Linked DNA regions of Homo sapiens. The protein of the gene in region 2 purifies or fractionates together with the protein of the main gene of each other region. This does not show direct contact. Each region holds a gene or a part of one and is shown on either strand. Other genes may lie near its edges.

Region 1 (3,936 bases), 360 kb from region 2:
GAATATGAAGGAATTGAAAAGGATAGAAATAGGATTTTTAGAAGTTTGCATTGGGTTTTAAAGAGGATTCCCTACAATATTTTCAGTGCTGAGTTGGGCTTTGCAGATACCATTCTCTAAAGAGACTAGACCACAGGGAACTTTAGCACCCCATCCTCCAACATTGCAGGACCCAGTTGGTGGTACAAGAGGAAAGTGTGGCCCTGGCCAAGGCAGTTCCTTCCCTGAGTGGGTTTCCAGTGACTGGGCTGTAAGTTTAGGGAGTTTGGATGAAGGGATATTGTGCTGTTTGTGGAGATACAGGTGTTTAGACATTCAAAGGCAGCAGAGTAGTCAAGATGATCTTCTGCTAGTGTCCAGGGTTAGAAACAAACACATGATTCCCTTTTTCATTCATTCCTTTATGCGTTCATTTATACATCACCAAACATTGTCTCCTATGCACCAGACCTTGTGGGATTGTTTTGAACACTTGTTACTCCTCTATTTTTTTAATGTGTGTATTTGGAATCTTTAGTTACAAAAGTCCACCCCAAATTCTCTAGAGCTAGCTAAGCAATGGAGAAGAAAAAGCTAACTAGGGTGAGGGGCCCAGAAGGGGGCCCAGAAGCCCCTCGCACAAGATTCACCTTCCTTTGGAGATGGCTCACTTACTACCAGGACTGACCTGGTGAATACCTACCCACTTCAGGGGGCTCCTAGCCTTTTCCCTCAGGCCTTCAACCTATAGTTTCAACAGGGCAAGCCTGTCAGATGAGAAAATGTAATTCATAAAGTCCTGCATGGGTTCAAGCCCTCTGCACAGTGGTGGAGACATGGTCCAGTGATACTGACCATGACCAGTGATACTGGTCCATGAGCAGATACAATTTCACAATCTCTCCAACACCCAGGAAGATGAGGGTCTCATCATGGTCAACCCTGCTCTGAGGCTCATCAAAGGGCAGCACAGAAACAGCCCCAACCCTCAAATCTCCATTTTCAGATGCTTCTAACTTGCGTGGGAAAGTTTATTCACAGCATTCTAGAAGGCATGGGGCTCCCAGGCTGGGATTTCACCAGCTCAGTCTGCTTGTTCATGTTCGTGCAGATCTTTCCTCTAGCTGAGAAACAAGAGTAAGAAGAGAGGGATGCAGAAGAGTGCCTGATAGAAAAGCATAAATATGGACCAAACAAACAGACAGAAATTACCACGAAATGCATTCAGAGCTTTATTCATGCCAAAGTTTGGGGACTGTACTAACTCTGGCAGGCTGCCTTGGTAGAGAAGCAAAGCACAGAGGCAAAGTGATGAGGTTCTACATCACTGGCACTAACAGAGAGGGGGCCAGAAGCTGGTGCATGTTCCAGAAGGGGTAGCGGGGCAGTGCATTCTGGAGTTGAGCTGTCGTATGTTTAGCAGCAGCAGTCATCCTCATGGTCACAGCATGCAGGACCTCGGGACCTCATGGGGATAATTCCCAAACAGCAGCACCCAGAGCTGCCACATCCACAGCTGCAGCCACAGCCCCCAGAACCACAGCATCCAGAGCTTCCCGAATTCTCACAGCAGCCAGATGATCCTGTGTTGCAGTTCTGGGGCCGCTGAATCCAGCGTCTCAGGGGACTCACCCCGAAGGTCCGGGGAGCCAGACAGCAGTAGCTGGTGGAACAGGGAGCAGAGCATGGGTCAGTGACACAGTACTGGGAGGTTGAGCCACTTGCAGGAGCTTGAACATAATAGCTCTGGCAAGGAGAAGCACCCTGGACATAGCACGTCTGGGTCTGGCAGGGAGCTGGACTTTTGATGTAGGTCATCTGGCAGGGAGCTGGGCACTTCACGTAGGTTTGGCAGGGAGTTGGGCATTTTACATAGGTTGTCTGGCAGGGAGCTGGGCACTTCACATAGGTTTGGCAGGGTGTTGGGTATTTCACATAGGTCCTCTGGCAGGGAGCTGGGCACTTCACGTAGGTTTGAGTCTGGCATGGAACTTGGTACTTCACATAAGTTTGAGTAGGGCATGGAGCAGGGCCTGTCACACAGACAGTTTGGGTCTGGCATGGAACTGGGCATTTCACAGAGGCACCATTGCTACCCTGCCCAGCCCCTAGTCCCGAACCTTTCACACAAGATGGAGGGAACTGTGGCTGCTTCTGCTGGTCACACATTGTTCTGTGGCTTTGCAAAATCTGAAAAGAAAGGTTTCATTAGAACTGTAAAACCAGGAAGGTTTCTAGGGGAAACCTTCAACATCCCCTTTGAATACAGTGATTTGCAAGCAAGGCTTTCTTGAGAAGGTTGCAGACATCCAGAGGCTGTATACTTGGCAGGAGGTGGATTCAGAGCCAGGGACTCTCAGCTCAGCTTCTGTGCCTGTACCTGGCTATGTGGCTTGGTACAAGTCATCGCTTACCTCTGGGCCTCAGTCTCTATATTGGGAAATGGAGGCTTGAAATGGTGCTGCCTGTGTTTCTACCCAACTCTCCAAGCCTCCTCTCCTCTTTCTTCAGTGTCTGCATTGTGAATTACCCTTTGGAAATTGCTGCTCCCAGATGATTGACCCCTGCCACCAGTTCTCTCCAGGGTGACTTCCCTTCTTCCTTCTGCCCAGACAAGGAATACCCAGCAAAGACAAATTTATGTCCATGGACCCTGAGCCAACATGAGCCTCAAGCTGTGCCCGGTACTGAGCAAAGAACAAGGCTAAATTTGAGCAGGTTTCTACCAGGTGCTCCTTGAACCAGCTGGACTAATCAGTTGGCCTCATTAGCACATAGACCCAAGAGAGGACTGCACAATTGCATTCAGATAAGGGGATGGGGAGCCAGTTCTCTAAAGTCCCTTCTTAAACAGGAATGCCAGCTCATCGTGTCCCCCTCCCTCTCCTCTCATGCCCCAGGCTCCAAGTTTCCCACCAGCATTGCTTTCAGCCTCCTTCAGCAGATTTCCTAAGCATCTAGTCCTCGCTCACCCTTCATCCCACAGCTCTCATCCCACCCCAGCTTCCCCAAAGCTCTGTTTCTCACCATGTCCTTATCCCGTATAGAGACTTACCCTCTTTGCTGATAGGAGCAAGACTGGAAGAAGTCAGTGATCTGAAAAACTAGCAGGTGGGGAGACCTTTTATAGGGCAGCAATGAGGCAATTTAATGGCATCTAAATGAAGCACCAGAGATCACAAGGAGAAGGGATGGTGTTGCATTGGCAAGATTCCTCCCCAGTATGCCTGGCTCCTCAGTCAGAGGCAGGGCATGTCTGTGCTTGACATTGGGTTTTCCCAAACACTAGATAAATGATTCCTGTTCCCTTCCTCAGGAAACAAGTCAGTCTCCTTTTCCTATAAGTTATGAGTGATGCCTATGTGATCTGTCTCTAATGAAGCTGTTTCCAGGTCACTTGAGTCTTCAGGACTTATCCAAGTTATAGTTAGATTCTCAATTTTTCATACACTGTGCCAAAAGCTAAGTGTAGCTCAGAGAATCAAACTAAAATTGAGAATCTAATCTAAAGCTAAGTGTAGCTTTTGGCACAGTGTATGAAAAATTGAGAATTTAACTATAGATTCACCTCACTTCACTCAGCCTAAATGAGTGTTCTGTGGGCTTCCAAGGTAACTTCTGCTGGTCTAGGTTGCTGAGCACAGTTTGGCCCAGTGGTCTCTGGCCCAATATGACACAAGACCTCCAAAAAATGGTTTGTTTCATGGAACATCAGGTTATTCTAGGTTCATTTGGAAACTGGGTGGGTGCTTAATGATCCTAGGCCCCAGGCTGGAGTCTAGACTGCCTCCCCTCAGCCTTCTCATGCCCCTTAGGCTCCCCCATTCTTACCTTTCAGGACCTCACTACCAGGCTTCAATTCCAAAGAACGCTGAGCAGGGAAAATTCCAGCCAGATGAGCACTGTGTGATAACAACAACAACAATAATAATAGAATCTAAAGTTTATTTGAATACT
Region 2 (5,436 bases):
TGGAAAATTCATTTGAACTAGAAGAGTTTGAAAAGCGGCCACAGGAACCATATTCATGTTGACCATTACTACAAGACTGGCTACCTCCAGACCCATATTGTCCACAGCAAGAGGACTGACTTGAGCCTGTTCTCCATTGTCCTCCACAGTTCTGTGGTTGACCATTTTCTCTAGCTCCATATCCTCTCTGACTATAGGACTGACTACAGGGGTTAGACTCAGGTTGACCACATCCAGAGGGCTGACCTCCTGAGACACAGCCATGGCCTTGTCCTCCCTTAATTCCTGACTGACAGCCTGACTGAATATAGCTAAATTGATTTCCTTGCCCTCCAAATCTATGTGACTGACAAGAACTTGAAGCATTTTGTGGCCTTCCACACCCACTTGAATTGCTATAACCACATGCATGACTTCGCCTCCCACTGTCTCCTGAACCTGAACAGCTAGACCCAAGCTTTTGTTCTCTAATTCTTGACTGAGTAGAGTTTGATTCATGCCCACTAGTCTCCAATCCACATGACAGACCACCATGACCTTTCCTTTCCCAACTGTTTGATCCAGATCCAGATTCATACTCCTCCCCAGATTCCCTAGAAGGGCTAATGTGTGACTTGTTTATTCTTTCTCTCAGTTCTACAGAGCTGGAACCATGTCTGTCTTTGCCACCACTCCATGAATGACCACAGCTGGACCTGTGGTATCTTTTCTGAGATCCCTCTTGGTTCCCAGAGCTGGATAAATTACCTTGTCTTCCTAGCCTCCTGGAGTTGGACCCATGTCTACATTTCACAGTTCCCCTTGAGTGCCCAGAACTATATCCATGCTCCTCTCCCTCACTCCAACTTGAATGTCTGTAACCTGATTTATGTCCTGGTGTATCCTCTTCATCCTCTTCTGTTTCACTTTCTTCTTCTTGGTGTCGGTGACCACGCCTATGCTTCTTTGACCCTGAAGCTTTGCAGTATTCTTTGCTGAGGACCTTGTTGCAGGCCATAGTCAGCTTGAATATCATCAAAAGAAACTCAGTAAAGTCCAATCTTCTGTCATGATCTCGATCCAGCATATGCATGATGACATCCACTGTGTCTGGATCATCTGGGTTCTGTATATGAGTGACACACCAAGGGAGACCTGGTCAGCCTAACCTGCATACTCAACTAACACATTTAAATAGCGCTGTGAAATTATGGATGTTTGACATGATGTAGTTTTAGTCCAATAAAGGATTACTTTAGGTTAATAGAACCCAGTAAATGTTAAGGGTTAATAGAAAATAAAGACTACTGGGATCCTCAGAAGAAGACATTTCAAGGATTTAGGCTAAAGGATTAAGTGCTTAGGTAAGGCCTACAGGAAGGAGTGGAATAAACTAAGTTCAGTAACTGGTATTTCTAAGTTTTACATAAATTGTAACTATTACATGTTAATATCTTCCATGTTGGAATTTATCATCTATTATTTTGAAGTTAATAACTGAGTCTTTTTTTTTTTTTTGAGATGGAGTCTTGCTCTGTAGCCCAGGCTGGAGTGCAGTGGTGCGATCTCTGCTCACTGCAAGCTCTGCCTCCCAGGTTCACGCCATTCTCCTGCCTCAGCCTCCCGAGTAGCTGGGACTACAGGGGCATGCAACCACGCCCGGCTAATTTTTTGTATTTTTAGTAGAGATGGGGTTTCACCGTATTAGCCAGGATGGTCTTGATCTCCTTACCTTGTGATTCACCCACTTCGGCCTCCCAAAGTGCTGGGATTACAGGCATGAGCCACCGCGCCTAGCTGAGTCCTTTTTAAGTAGATGGAATAAAATGCTGGCATTTTATTTTTGATTCTTAATCATGGCTATTTTGTCAACTCCCTATGTAGATGATTTCCCTTTCTATACTTTTTTTTCCATTTGATAGGATAATTTATTAATTCGTGTCCTAGTATAATTTTATTTTCTGCTTTTTCTAAGGAAAAGCCTGGGTGTATGAGAAAGTCTGAGAGTCTATGAGGTAGGAGTGCATAGGTGGAAAAGTGAGGACGAAACATTCACTTTCTTTAAAATATCTGCTGCTTTAACAGACTTTCTGGCATCCCCAAAATACCACTCATAGAGTTTGCTTAGAGTTCACTGGGGCTGTGCACTTTTTAGCTGATCTGGGTCATACAACAGAGCTTGTACAGGACTCCAGCAGCCTTCAGTTCTGGCACATGGCTCTCACCTTCAGAACTGGATGAAGCTCTTTCTCCAGAAGTTCCTTTAGTTCACCCTTGCTCAGTGTGCCACACTCCCCATCTTGCTTGGTGTATTTGTAGAAAACATCAATTACGGTGACAACACTTCTCAAGAGGTCGGTCATCTTTTTGCAAGTTTAAGTGAACCTGGACACAGAAAAACAAAGAACCCTATTATTCATATTCTCTCCTTTTATCAGCAATTTTCATTTTAATAATAACCAGCATGATTTTTTTAACCTCTTGTTTTTTAAATCTCAAAACGTAAGAATGGGCCAGGGATGATACAACCCCGTTTAACACAATGAAAATTAACTTTGTTAACTTTGAGTTACTTTTCTGTGATCAAGTCTTGGCATGTTACTGGTTCAACTGAGAATAGACCTCAAGTCTCTATATTTCCTGTCATGGGTAAGTATAGTCTCTACATAGTATCTCTACACTTTGAGTGTGTTGGCATTCTGGGTGTTGTTCTAAGGCTTCCAAAATTTCCAGAACCAGCCAGACACCATTGCCTCAATCTCTCTTTCTAGTTTCACTGCTTTTCTTGAGTCAAAAGTGACAGACCTTCCACCATGCACATCTGTTTATCCTCTGGGCACCAGAAGCTAAACTGGACCCTTAAGGCCTTCAGCAAATTAAAAATGGGCAAAGGGGCTCAAAATAGCTTGGTGTTTCATAGGCATGAGACAGTAGAACTCAGTAGAGCTTAGGAACTCTCTTAATGTCAAGCACTTGACCAAACACTGTTTTCTTTAATTAATCAAGAAGAAGAGCTCAGCAATGCAGGCAGCAGTTTAACTAGTGGATAATTAGATCTTGGAGCTCTGGGAACCAACACTGAATAAGGAAGGGACTCTGCAACAGACCCAGCTGCCTCCCAGTTTGAGCTGGACAGCCCAGAAAAGAGGGCATGGAAAAAGACTCGGAACAGACTGTGGAATGGCCTAGAGGAAGGTGAACTTTTACTTGCATTATTCTTCTCCATAAAAATGAACTTAACTACAAAAAGGCCCCAGAATAAACTAAACTAACCAAACAAATAAGCAAACAAAAAGAAAAGAAAATGAAAGAAAGAAACAAAAAAGAAAAGAAAGGCAAAATATACATGAACTCTGCCTTAGCTTATATCCCTAGACTTCTACTATGGACAACACCAAATATTCATAAATGTAGCTGGATGAATTTTCTCTCACCTGGTTCACCAAAGGAACAAGTAGGATAAAGCCTGATGCAGCTTGCAGGGTGACGATGGATTGGGATAATGACCCTTATATAGCTTATAGTGATTATAGTGAATGAGGTGATTCATTTTCCATCAAACCTAACTCCACCTCTACATATTTACCTTCCTCCTTCACATTGTTATCTACAGATGATTGCAGAAAGGCTAGTACCAGCCCCACCTTCCAGTACGAGGACATGGTTGCAAGATACCTTTTTTTTCAGGGTCATATACATGTGAAAAGCACAGACTTTGTTTTAGAGGACTCATGTTATACATTTCTTTTAACTAGTACCCACAGAAAGTAGCAGAGTGTAAGATACTTGGAAGGTGCACAATAAATGCTTATTTAATTGAAAATGAACCTGAGCCACTAGGTTCATCTAATTCATGTCTTTTTTGTAATAATAAAAAGTGACATTTATTGAGAATTTACTATGTGCTAAATACTTTAAACAAACCATCTCAATCTTTAAAAAATCTGCACTTTTAGTTATGGGTACATAGTTGTATATAATTGTTGGGTACATGTGATGTTTTGATATGGGCATACCATGTGTAATGATCAAATTACAGTAATTGGGGTATCCAGCACCTCAAGCATTTCTTTGTAGTAGGAACATTCTAATTCTACTATTTTAGTTATTTAAAAATATACAATAAATAGTTAACTATAGTTACCATATTATGTTACCAAATACTAGATCTTATCACCTCATTTAATCTTCACAACCTTCATACGAGATATGTATTTATTATCCCATTTTATAGAGACAGGTTCTGGAAGCATAAGGATCTTCTCCAAGGTCATAGCTAGTAGGCAGAGAAACCAGAAGTTGAACCTGTATCTACCTTATTGCAATTGCTGTTTACCATTATACTAACTTACCTCTGTGTATTTATCATATATAACTATCATGCAAAAATTATGCACCATTTTAGGAGTGTAAGGCCCACTCAAACGCAAATAATATAAAAAAGTAACATACAGAGTGCTGTTAGGAAGAGAGGAAACATTCTCTGACCTTGTGAAGGCTCATTTCTAGGCTAGAAAAGTGTAATTGGCTATATATAAAAATAATGTTTTCAGATATGTTCAGGGTGAATTTAGAGTGAGCTTTCTTCCAGCACTCTGCGATCCACTGGTAGTCTGGCATGTTTAGGGCCTGGACCCTTGGGAAAATGTTCACTTATGTACAGAAAGTATATCAAATACACTTGAGGGTAACAAAAATAATCAGAGAGCTGTAAGTCTTAAGCATGGAGAGCCAATTCTGCTGTACTTTGCTACCAGGTGATAATGATGATGATGAGGAGGATAGCAGCTACCATTAAGTGCTAAGTGCTTACTATCTTCTATACATGGTAGGTTTACATGCTTATCTATTTATTCCTCAAAATAACCCCATTTTATAGATAAGGTAATAAAAGCATAGAGCAATGTAAACATTTGTTACAAATCGCAGCTAGTTAGTAGCAGCACTAGAACAGATACACATGCTAGCCGATGCTAAAGCCTAGCACTTAACCATATATATTCTACATATATGGAGTCAATAAACTCCTATCTGGGCATTGCTTTGGGCCAGTCATCATATCTTATTCATTCCACCATCTAGGCAGCACCTAGAGCTTGGTAAACACTAAGAATGAGTGTCTGTTCATAAAATGTTAATGAATAGGCCCTTGAAATATGTCAATTGCTCACATAGCCAAGGAATCCTAGACCAAAACAACCACACAGAAAGTTATGGTTGCTGTTGGATACTATGGTCATTTTCAATCATATGCATCTTTTGGAAGTGCATTTTTGTTAAGATGGCTGCTGTGTCAGAAAGACTTTCAGGCCCCAGACTCCACACTGAGACAGAATTTTAAAGCATTTTTGCACTGTCACTCCAGCATTATAGTTGAGAACTCTGAAACTCCTCCATAGTTCAGAACTCCATTATTCAGTCTTTTGTATTCTTTGCATTTAGGTCTCTCTTCCTCTT
Region 3 (5,426 bases), on a different chromosome or scaffold from region 2:
AATGTTTTTACTTTGTGGCAACTCAAACCAATTGAGCGATGATAAATGTGTACTCCTTGTTTCTGTAAAGGTGATAGAAGATGCTAATCCTAAATCTACAGCGAAATAATAAAGCTTTTATGAACACCATATAACTGTTAATGATGACACTTGAATGCAATTTGTAAGTTTCACTGAATACGTGAACAGAAATATTCCTTCCATTTTCTACAAAATATTTTACTGAAACACTGATCTCTATACTACATATCACTATAATACACGCTCAAGAAAGCACAAAGAGCTCTCTCTTTTGCTTGTCTTCTGTTTGGTCTGTACTAATTTGTTAGTTCTTCTCTTGCTTTAGGCATCTGTGAACACAATTTTGGGGACTTAAGATGTCTTCAAGTAAGTTTAGGAACTATGTAATGAAATGTGTATTATTTTCTGTGTATTTTAGCCTGAGTGATGAAAGTACTCTTAAAAACTCCTGCTCATATTTTACAGAATTTCAGTTCGGTTCAAACTGTGGAGTTAGTTTATCAGGTGTCAGAGGGTTGGGTTTTTTTTTGTTTGTTTGTTTCGAAATGAAATATTAACCCATAGAAAGAGGGGGAAAATGGTTACTATAATGAACCAAAATAATCAGATCATTCATGGTCATAGATAAAAGTCATTTTCTCTGTTCTTTGAGCTTGAGCTGCAGAAATTTACCTTTTTAGAAAAAGACATCTTCAGATTTGTATTGACTTAAATGGACTAATTGGACCTGGCAAAGTTGCAAGTAATTTTCAGAAATCATTAAAACCATAGAGATCCCTCTGGCTCTGTTTTGCTTTCCCACAGTGACCATGCTGTACTTTTTACCATTGTCATATACATGCACATAGATTTCTTTTATTTGGTGCATAAGAAGCATTGTTCTCAGGCCTAGAGAAAATACATTCTAACTCCTTTCTCTACTCCATACACTGATTACATGGAAACAAAAAGAAGAATGAAAAATAGATGCAGAATTAACAAAATGTGTTTGACTTGCAGTGTTATAGCAGGTGTAATCTCTTGCCTGTCCAGGAGACTTGTCAGAACAATGGAATAGCCATAGAGCGATCTTGATTGCTGTAAGAGCAGCTCCTCCAGCTTTGTTCTCCCTGATTCAACCCACTCATTTGAACAAGGTTCACAACCTTCAGATGCATTGAGATGAATACACAGTATGCTTGCAAACAAATAGTTACCCAGTTCTCAGGTAGATTTGCTTAAAAGACACTACCAATTTAAATATCTTAAAGGCCTTAACAATTGTACAAATACGCTTCCTAATGCAGGTTCCCGCTTATTGACTTTGAGTAGAGACGAATATAAAGACTTTACATAAATTTTTTTTCATTTTTTGGTAAAAGCATGCATTTATAATGAGACTAGGAGAAAGATAACTGAAAGAATTTGCTATAGTGGTGGTTGTTTTATGAAGAAAAAAAGTATTTTAAAGAAAAATACAGATTAGGAAACTCCAAAGCACAATTACCAAAATTATCCCATGTGGTAAAATCTGTACTTAAAATAAATTTTGATCTTCCAAACCTTAGAAAGTGAAATGTTTTCCAAAAAAACCTATGATGTCAACGTGAAAATGAAACATTGTAATTCATGATAGTGTAAGTTCTTTGAGAAAAAATTTTCATAAGGCATGTGGGAGACTTGTGATTAATTTCAATATAAAATAAGGTAACCTCCTCTTCCCCCATTCCCAAAAAAACCCCCATAAGCCAACAAAAAAAAATCTAGGCACAGCTAGAGAAAGTTCAATAAAGATATATGATTTTGATGATGATACATTTTATTGAAGAATGACTAAATAGGAAGTGGCTGTTTAAAGAAATTTGATATGCTATAATTAATTTGAAATAAATAAATCAACAAATAAGGCACATCTTAGAGATTCTATGAAAGTTAGTGTACACCTATCTGAACAAGCTGATCAACTAAAACTATAATAGCTCTTAATGGATCAAATTTATTTGAAATTTTAAGTAAAAGTGCTTGATTACTGACAATATGAAACTCTCATATTTCAAATGACATACTGTATAATGATCAGTGATCCCTACCAAATCCTAAGTAATGAAATCAACTGATCCTAAATATCCACTGAAAAGAGCATGGGATAGGACTAATGTTTGAAGGAAAGCTTGGAACCAAAGCCACCAGCTTACTGATGCTCATTTATAACTAAATCCACTGATTATGTCCCGCCTTAGTTAATAAAACTGAATTCAAACTAACCAGCATACTTTGAATCAAAGATCTAACTTATTATACCAACCAACCCAACATTCCAGTTCAAAAATTAAGCAAGTAGAAACAAATGTGAACCACAGCACTATACATCCTGCCAAGCTGGAGGGCAATTTACTTGGCACCTGCCTTTTTGAATTACATTAACCTTACTATGAGAGAGATTACAATTTTCAAATTTTCACTGAAAGTGAAATTGACATAATACATTAGTGGTGCACTTAGTATTATCTCTACAGCAAGAAAACTAATTACATGTAAGGGGGCAATGATAAAGTATTTCATTACATTCGTCAGACGATCAAGTGCACAACTTTTATATCGCAGTCATCACTGACATTCCAGTAGTAAGATCGAGTGTAATAATAATTATACTTACTCTTTAATTATAGCCACTTCTTCACTTAATATGTCATTTATAAACCTCCTGTACTGCCGTTTTTTGAAATTAAAAATGTTTTAAATAAAATCATAGTTAAATAGTGCGGGGCTTTTTATAGTAGTGATACAGATTCTAACCAAATATGCAACTGATGACTTTATTTGGATAGCGAGACCAGCCACAAACTGCTACGATTTTAAATTATGTGGTGCTATTTTTATGTTTTAAAAATTAGAGTAATTCCACCACCAAACACACAAAAAAAATAAAAAAAAAAACAGGTTAAAAATCCAGACACACTTGTGATATTTAGTTTAAAAGCCCTCTTGCAGAAGAGATTTTGAACGACAAAGTGCTACTAACTAGCGATAGGAATTTCCTAAATTCAGTCTTTTCCCAGCATGACTTAGCAATGACTTCAGTGTCAGAGATGTAATACAATGAGTTGACACTGAGGCATTAACATGATCTTGAGTCTTCAATTAAAGAGAGAAATGCTATTGAAAAATCTAGTTCATAAAATCATCTTGTCATTAATATACATTTTCAATGGGTTTAGGTTAGAAATAATGCCCACTAACATTTTCTAAAAAGTTTTCACTTGTTTACAATGGGCACGATTATGAAGGACTTTTACCAGAATCCACTCACCAGAAAAATGAACAGCATTGCAACTACTCTGAAGAAACTCCAGTCCATCTCTGCTGGATTCTCTTACATCCAAGACCAAGGGAGTTTTGTTTGTTCTTCTCTGTTCTTTTTCTTTCTCCCACTCAGCTGGTGTCTGATTAAAATAATTTCTCAGTAGATGTTCTTACATGCAGGCTTTGAGGTGTTTCTGCCTTCCTCTGGGAGAAGGACTGAAGGTACGTATAACCAGTCTGGATCCCCACCCTAAAAACTTGGGCTGGTCTCACTGAAATGCTTGACAAGATCATCATTGCTCCCAGGTAAAAACTTGGGGACACACCCTTCCTCCAGCTGAAAAGCGACTCTTGATGGGGCAAGGAAGATTCACTCCTTTACTGAATGTTTTCAGTGGCAGGCTCTTAAAGTGAACAGAAATACCGAGGGTTATACAGGTGATGGGGGCTTCTCACCCCATGCTTTCTTTACAGGTGGTTTAGTTTCTCCCCATATTAAACAGGCAGGTATAACTTGAATGCTCATCTTATTCATTCCATTATCTGTTTGTAGCCAAACCCTCAGGTCATAGTAGAAAATGACAAACTTTCCATTTTAGTAGATGTTGGGAAAGTTTCAGTTATTTTCGGTTGTTAAGAGACAGAAAATATGCTAATGCAAGACTGAGATTTTTTAAAGTTATTAATTCAAACAAGTAAAACCATGATACTTACAATTATTAGATCCTCTGCATAAGTCACAATTCCCATTAACTGACCAGCCTTCAGTCTAAGGAATCCTCCATTTTCCCTCTAAAGAAATTATTTTCTCTCCCTAATTATTTTTCTTTCTTTATGATTCTTTTATTAAATGCAACAAAATAAAAATTTAAATATTACTAAACTTAAGGGTGAATAGTGAGAACCACCAATTAAAATCCTGATAATAACTTTAAAAATGAGATTCGGTGCCTGAAATACTAATGAAAACACAGAAAGCTGCTCAGCAGGTGAGGTGGGTTAAAAGTCAATGACAATTCCTAAGCACAGAGCCAAGAATCTGTACAGCGAGCCAATTAGAACATAGGGAATACACTGAAGAAATGGCTGCCTACACAGGTAGACGGGAAACTGAATGCAGCCCTGAGGTTTGTGAAAATAAATAGCAACCTTCACAGGGCAGCATTTGGACATATTTTTGGACTCTCTTCTCTTCCCCTGGCAACGTCTAGTATAAATATTGTGAGTGGCAGGAAGCTCATAGACACTGGACACCCTCAGAGTTTGAAACGGCTACTTAGAACAAGAGACCTACCTGATAAGATGTTGATTATGGTCAAAAAGATACTCAAAATGTCTCCAAAAGGAAGAAAATCTCTGAGGGTCAGAGGGTCTATAGAAGGCTGTCATTTCACTACAGATTTGTGGCAAAGAAGATGTGTGGTTTGAATTTCCATATTATCCATCATACAGTGTGGAGGGGAGGAGATAGGCTGCCCATGTTTATTTGCAGTGAATAAGAATGTTTATGATTGTAAATAGCAGATGTAAATAAATAAAATTTAGAAAGATGAGCTGGCCGATTTTCTCTAATGAGAAATGTCAAATAAAATAGACTGTATTAACCTATGACTTAGTCTGAGCAATATATTAGTATCATGTTGTCTGACCATGAATAGCAGAAGACTCACTGGGCACCAGAGACAACTGCACCTACTCTTGCAGCTTTCCAGTGGCGAGTCAATGTTTTATGCATCTCGGATTCTGGGCATGATGCTAGGGCATGCATGGGGGCCTCCTTCATCCATTAAATTACCTTTCCTTAAACCTAACCCTGGCTCCACCCCTAACTCAATGCCTTGCTCCAACAATCCTATATGACTAGGGGATTCATAAGGCAGCAATCTCTCAAACATCTTTCTGGAGAGGAGGTGTGATAGAACTCCAATACTGCAGAGCAGCGTCTGTCTTGGCAGTTACATGAGAGCCAATACGATGTTAAACACAGCGGGAGAGGGAATTTGTTAATCACTTTCTCTCCCTTGCCTCCTTCCCTGCCTTTTTCTCTTTCTTACTCATTTTAACGTCCTCAGAACAGTGCTATCCAGTAGAACTTTCTGCAATACGAACATATTCTCTATCTA
Region 4 (4,655 bases), on a different chromosome or scaffold from region 2:
AGACCTCACCTGAAAGAGCAAGAGAACAGAGCTCGGGGAAGTTGAGGGGACAAACGTTCCCCACCAAAGCCACATAGAGAACCACTCTTTCTCCCTTTCTCCTACTTGTTCATCAACAAGTACTCTAACCACCTAGGCCAGGTGCAGAAGCACAGCACAGATGCCCTGCACTCCTGGCACTCTGTGCACACTCCTGCATGCCCTGCATTCCCTGCACTCCTTGCACACTCCCTGCAGCCCTGCACTTCCTGAATACCTTGCACACTGTGCACACTCCCTGCAGCCCTGCATTCCCCGTATACCCAGCAGGCCCTGCACGCTCTCTGTGCCCTGCACACTGCGCTTGTCTCTGAGGCAGTGAGAGGCAGCCACATGACAACACAGTGGGGTCTCCGCCCCGTGGAGGGACTGTGGCTTCTGTGAGCCTGGCAGAAGGGCGTGACCCGCACTTTGGGGTCAGGCAGGAGGAAGGGATGCTTCAGTGAGACCTGAATTGGGGCTGAAGTCAGCCTGACAAGAGATGGCCACTTGTGATTTAGAATATTACAGCATTCTAGATGAGGTATACCATATACATATGAGGTATATATATATCTCTCATCTAGAATGCCGAAATATTCTAGATGACGTTGCCAGTGAGGGAGGAAGAGGAAGATGGAACAACTTGTACTTCTCCCTCCTTCCATCCTCTTCTTCCTCACACTGAACTCCCAGGCTTAAAATAAGAGCTGGCTTCAGTGACTGACACCAAGGGGAGGGCACCTCTGGGTTGGACCCTGAGGGGTCTTTGTGCTCAGTAGAATCTTGGGGGGCCAGCTAGGCAACGCTGCTTGATGTAATGAGGTCCCTCAGGGTCGGCTGCCTACCTACTGTGAAAACAGTTATTTCTGGGGAGAGAGGGCTGTCCCCAGTGGAGAGCCTCAGAAATGAACTCAGCATTTGCAGGAAGTAAAAAGAAGTGGCCTATACCGGAAGCGTAGGTTTGGCCTGGCTGAACCGCAGGGGAGGATCCAGTCTGGACTGGGGGCATGAGATAGCTCTAGCCCACTCCTCAGAGGTCTCTCATTTTGAGTCCCCATTTCAGGGGGATGCTGAGAGCCTGAGAACCCCTGGTCTAGCTGACAAGCTCCTCTTCAGCCACAGAAAGAGGGGAGGAGGCCCAGGTAGGGGAGGTAGGTCCCTGGGTCCCCAGGCAGGTTGGCAGTGGAACTGGAGGAGTCCAGAGGCTTGGCCCCTCCCCCAGTAATGCAGCCACCTTTGACCCCGTGCTTCTTAAAGATAGCTGGGACTGCCCCCACCCTTCCCTAGCCCAGGTCTTGAAGTCCTTCCCATCCTTCCCACAGTTCCGATTTCGGCTTCTAGCCCATCCCACCCAAGGAAGCTCAGCACACTTGTCTGCGCCCCCTTTCTCTTACATCCTCCTCCTGTCTGCCACTCCCCATTGATTTCTCTTCCTGCCTCTTTCTCTCTCCGATTTTCTCCACCAGTGGGTGCAGGTTCTGCTCAGTCTTCCTGCCTGTCCTCTCCGGGGGCCCCCAGAACTAAGCTGAGCCTGCTCCAGCCCCATATTTTACCGCAGGAGGTTGGCTTCCTTCATGGCCAGGAGGAAGTGGTGAGGGGCAGCTGGCATGCCTGGTGGTCAGGGACAGGCAGGGTCTGAGACCCAGGCCAGGCCCCTCTCCCTGAGCAGGTTTCTCCAGATCCAAAAGAAAGAGCTGGCGAGATTGGAAAGGTCCTTTCTAGACCCTAAAGAACCCCTAATAACCCACAGGGCCAGTCTGTGCTCACGTGGCACAGTGGAAGAGAGGACACTATTTTTTTTTTTCTTCTGCTCGGGGGTCCAGTTTTTTCTTTTCTTTTTTTTTTTTTAGTTTTTTGATTTTTTTTTTTTTTTTGAGACAGGGTCTCACTATGTTGCCCAGGCTAGTTTCAAACTCCTGGGCTCAAGCAATCCTCCTGCCTCAGCCTCCCAAAGTGTTGGGATTACAGGCGTGCGCCACCACGCCCCAGCCTGGAGGCCCAGTTTCTGTTTCAGGAAGTGACCTCTGAGCCAAACCATTTACTCACCTCCTTCTCCATCTTTCTGCCCTACAGCCCACTTCCTCCAAATGCAAAAAGCTGACAGGACACTGTCCCTAAGTCACCCCATCACCCAGCCCTGGACAAGTCCGCCTGGCAGTTTTGAAAACTAGTCCCATGGGCATGCTTCTGAGTGCTGTGTCCTTCCCGTCTGACTGATGGCTCTCAGGCAGCACAGCCCTCCGAGGTGGTCAGGAGTGGCGGCTGCACTCCGCTGGGAATCTTGACACTGCTCCTTAGCCTCCCCTGTCAGAGGCTGGGCCTCAGAGGAGCCTTCCAGGTCTCCTGGGTGCTCTGCATCCGGCGTGGGGCGCCCACTCCCAGAGCTCCGAGAGTCAGGTTCGAGGCCTTGTGATATCCCCCTTACCTGGTGGTCACTCCATTGCCTGGGTCCTGGGGCGCCTCCCTTGGCTGGCGGGGGGTCCCCGTGGGGGCTGGGCGAGGCTCTTCCTGGCGTCCTCTTGGGAGCCACTCTCCTGGCTTGGCGATGATGGCTGCTGGGGAGGAGGAGAGAAAGTTCAGTCCACATCTGCTCTGGAGCCCCTCTAAGGATGCCCTCTCGTGGGCTGGGTTGGAAAGCCAAGAAAAGCACGCACCCCAGGCCAGGCCCTGCGGGCTCCCTGGCGCCTGTGGCTTGGGATACTTGTTTACTCGTGCAGCCCGGGAACTTGCCAGGTAGCGGGGGATGGCAGGCACACTGCTGGTGGTGACAGGCACAGCCCAGGGAGGTTCAGATCACCCTGGCCGCTCAGCCTTCCTGGCACCCCTCAGCCTCTGGAAAGCCCTCAGAACAACAAATTGTCTCCCTGGGCCATGGCTAGGCGCCCCCAGACAGAATGTGGAGGCCCATTTGCTTATCTGAAACTCAAATGTAACTGGGTGGTGTGTAGTTTTATTTGCTAAAACCAACAACCTGAGAGGTAGGGTGCTCCTCACCGAGCAGCCCAAGGCTCCTTAATGCTGAACCACTCGGTACACCCAGGGTGGCCAGGAAGTGCCCTAACTCCCAGTGACTTGTGCTGTAGCTGATGCCCACCCAGAACCAGGCCACCCGGGACACGCAGGAGCCCTTCACGGGGAAGCAGACGGAGAATCCCAGATAGCATCATAGCATACGGAGGGCTCCCCAAGGGCCTGGGAACAGATGTTCCTGCATCTCAGATGCCACGCACCCCTTCCCCCACCCCGCCTCTCCTCTTCTCCTACAGCTGAAGGGGTCCATGTCACTGCTGCAGCGACACTGTGACAGAGGCTGCATCCGTGACTCCCTTAGGCCAAGCTCCTCTCAGCTCTTTCATTTTAGCAGCTCCTCTGTGGCTTTGCAATGTGATCTGTTTAATCTTAAATATAAAGGGATCTTCCCTGCAGGTTTCCCTGTAGCAAGGGGCTTTGACTTCCAGATAATTCTCTTTTGACCCAAACGAGAATCTATTTCTGATACCAGAACCCAGCGGGTGGCACTGGGCGGTCTCCACCTGGATCTGGGTCTAGAAATAGAGCTTCAGGACAGGAGGCACATGCTCAGTGTGCTTAGAATAAGGCCAGGAGAAAAAGCGTAGGTGTACAAGAGAATACTTGAGTGAAGTCACACCGAATTGCTGGGCTACACGCAGGGGAACCCCATTACAACGTGTGGAGTCACAAAGCTGTGCCCACGCCAGGCAAGTCCTCTAGGACCAGGACCAGGAGCTTCCCAGGGGGTGTGAGCGTAGGGGACGGGGTGGTCATAAAAAAGGAGGAACTGAGCTGGAGTGTCCCAAGACCATGAGGTGGTCTTGGTTCAACTGTCCCCTTCTCCTCTCCTACTTCCTCCAGCACAGGCCACACTGAAGACTTTCAGAGGTCCCACCAAGAACAAGAGACCAGCTGAGCACGGTGGCTCACGCCTGTAATCCCACCACTTTGGGAGGCTGGGGCAGGCAGATCACTTGAGGCCAGGAGTTTGAGACCAGCCTGGCCAACATGGTAAAACCCTGTCTCTACTAAAAATACAAAAATTAGCCGGGTATGGTAACACATGCCTGTAATCCCAGCTACTCAGGAGGCTGAGGCAGGGGAATCACTTGAACCCCGGGAGGCGGAGTTTGCAGTGAGCCAAGATCGCACCACTGCACTCCAGCCTGGGTGAGAGAGCGAGACTCCATCTCAAAAAAAAAAAAAAAAAAAAACAGGAGACCCCCCTAACTAAGACAGCCAGGAGCTAGGAGATGGGGCAGCCATGGGTGTGCACCGGGGTCTTCCTGGGACAGTAGTATCTCTTGCCTGCTGGTCCATTTCAGACAGGGCTGGGCATTTTAACTCCCAGGGCTATGAAGTCCCAAGGCATGTGATTTTGATATTGAAGATAGTCCTGGTTGGTGGGGAAATGAGAATAGCTTTCCTTAGGCCAACGTTCTGCAAAATGCTAAGCCATATTATTGGCCTTTTCCCTTGGGAACTATTTCCTGTTGGCATTTGGGGCTGTCTTTTGCCTAGAATGTACTTTCTGGGCCTGCACTCAACCGATCAAGCAGTTTGAGGGTCCAACAGGTTCCTCCTCATGAGTTTTCCCTGCGGTGCTGACTGAACGCAAAGCG

Evidence for each region.
Region 1: the proteins of FLG2 (region 2) and KPLCE purify together in Homo sapiens (affinity purification with mass spectrometry, with the first as the bait; one large-scale study listed by BioGRID). This does not show direct contact.
Region 3: the proteins of FLG2 (region 2) and DSG1 purify together in Homo sapiens (affinity purification with mass spectrometry, with the first as the bait; one large-scale study listed by BioGRID). This does not show direct contact.
Region 4: the proteins of FLG2 (region 2) and ARMC9 purify together in Homo sapiens (co-immunoprecipitation; one large-scale study listed by IntAct). This does not show direct contact.

The regions. Positions count from the first base shown.
Region 1 is NC_000001.11:152,717,734-152,721,669, reverse strand, and holds KPLCE (protein KPLCE), read right to left. Parts: upstream 2,149-3,936; coding exon 1,396-2,148; 3' UTR 1,200-1,395; downstream 1-1,199.
Region 2 is NC_000001.11:152,356,543-152,361,978, forward strand, and holds the start of FLG2 (filaggrin-2), read right to left. Parts: upstream 3,465-5,436; 5' UTR 3,414-3,464; intron 2,365-3,413; 5' UTR 2,343-2,364; coding exon 2,205-2,342; intron 1,106-2,204; coding exon 1-1,105. UniProt on the Homo sapiens protein: Essential for normal cell-cell adhesion in the cornified cell layers. Important for proper integrity and mechanical strength of the stratum corneum of the epidermis.
Region 3 is NC_000018.10:31,316,233-31,321,658, reverse strand, and holds the start of DSG1 (desmoglein-1 preproprotein), read right to left. Parts: upstream 3,500-5,426; 5' UTR 3,359-3,499; coding exon 3,311-3,358; intron 1-3,310. UniProt on the Homo sapiens protein: Component of intercellular desmosome junctions. Involved in the interaction of plaque proteins and intermediate filaments mediating cell-cell adhesion.
Region 4 is NC_000002.12:231,358,675-231,363,329, reverse strand, and holds part of ARMC9 (lisH domain-containing protein ARMC9), read right to left. Parts: intron 2,577-4,655; coding exon 2,447-2,576; intron 623-2,446; exon of another isoform or gene 537-622; intron 1-536. UniProt on the Homo sapiens protein: Involved in ciliogenesis. It is required for appropriate acetylation and polyglutamylation of ciliary microtubules, and regulation of cilium length. Acts as a positive regulator of hedgehog (Hh)signaling.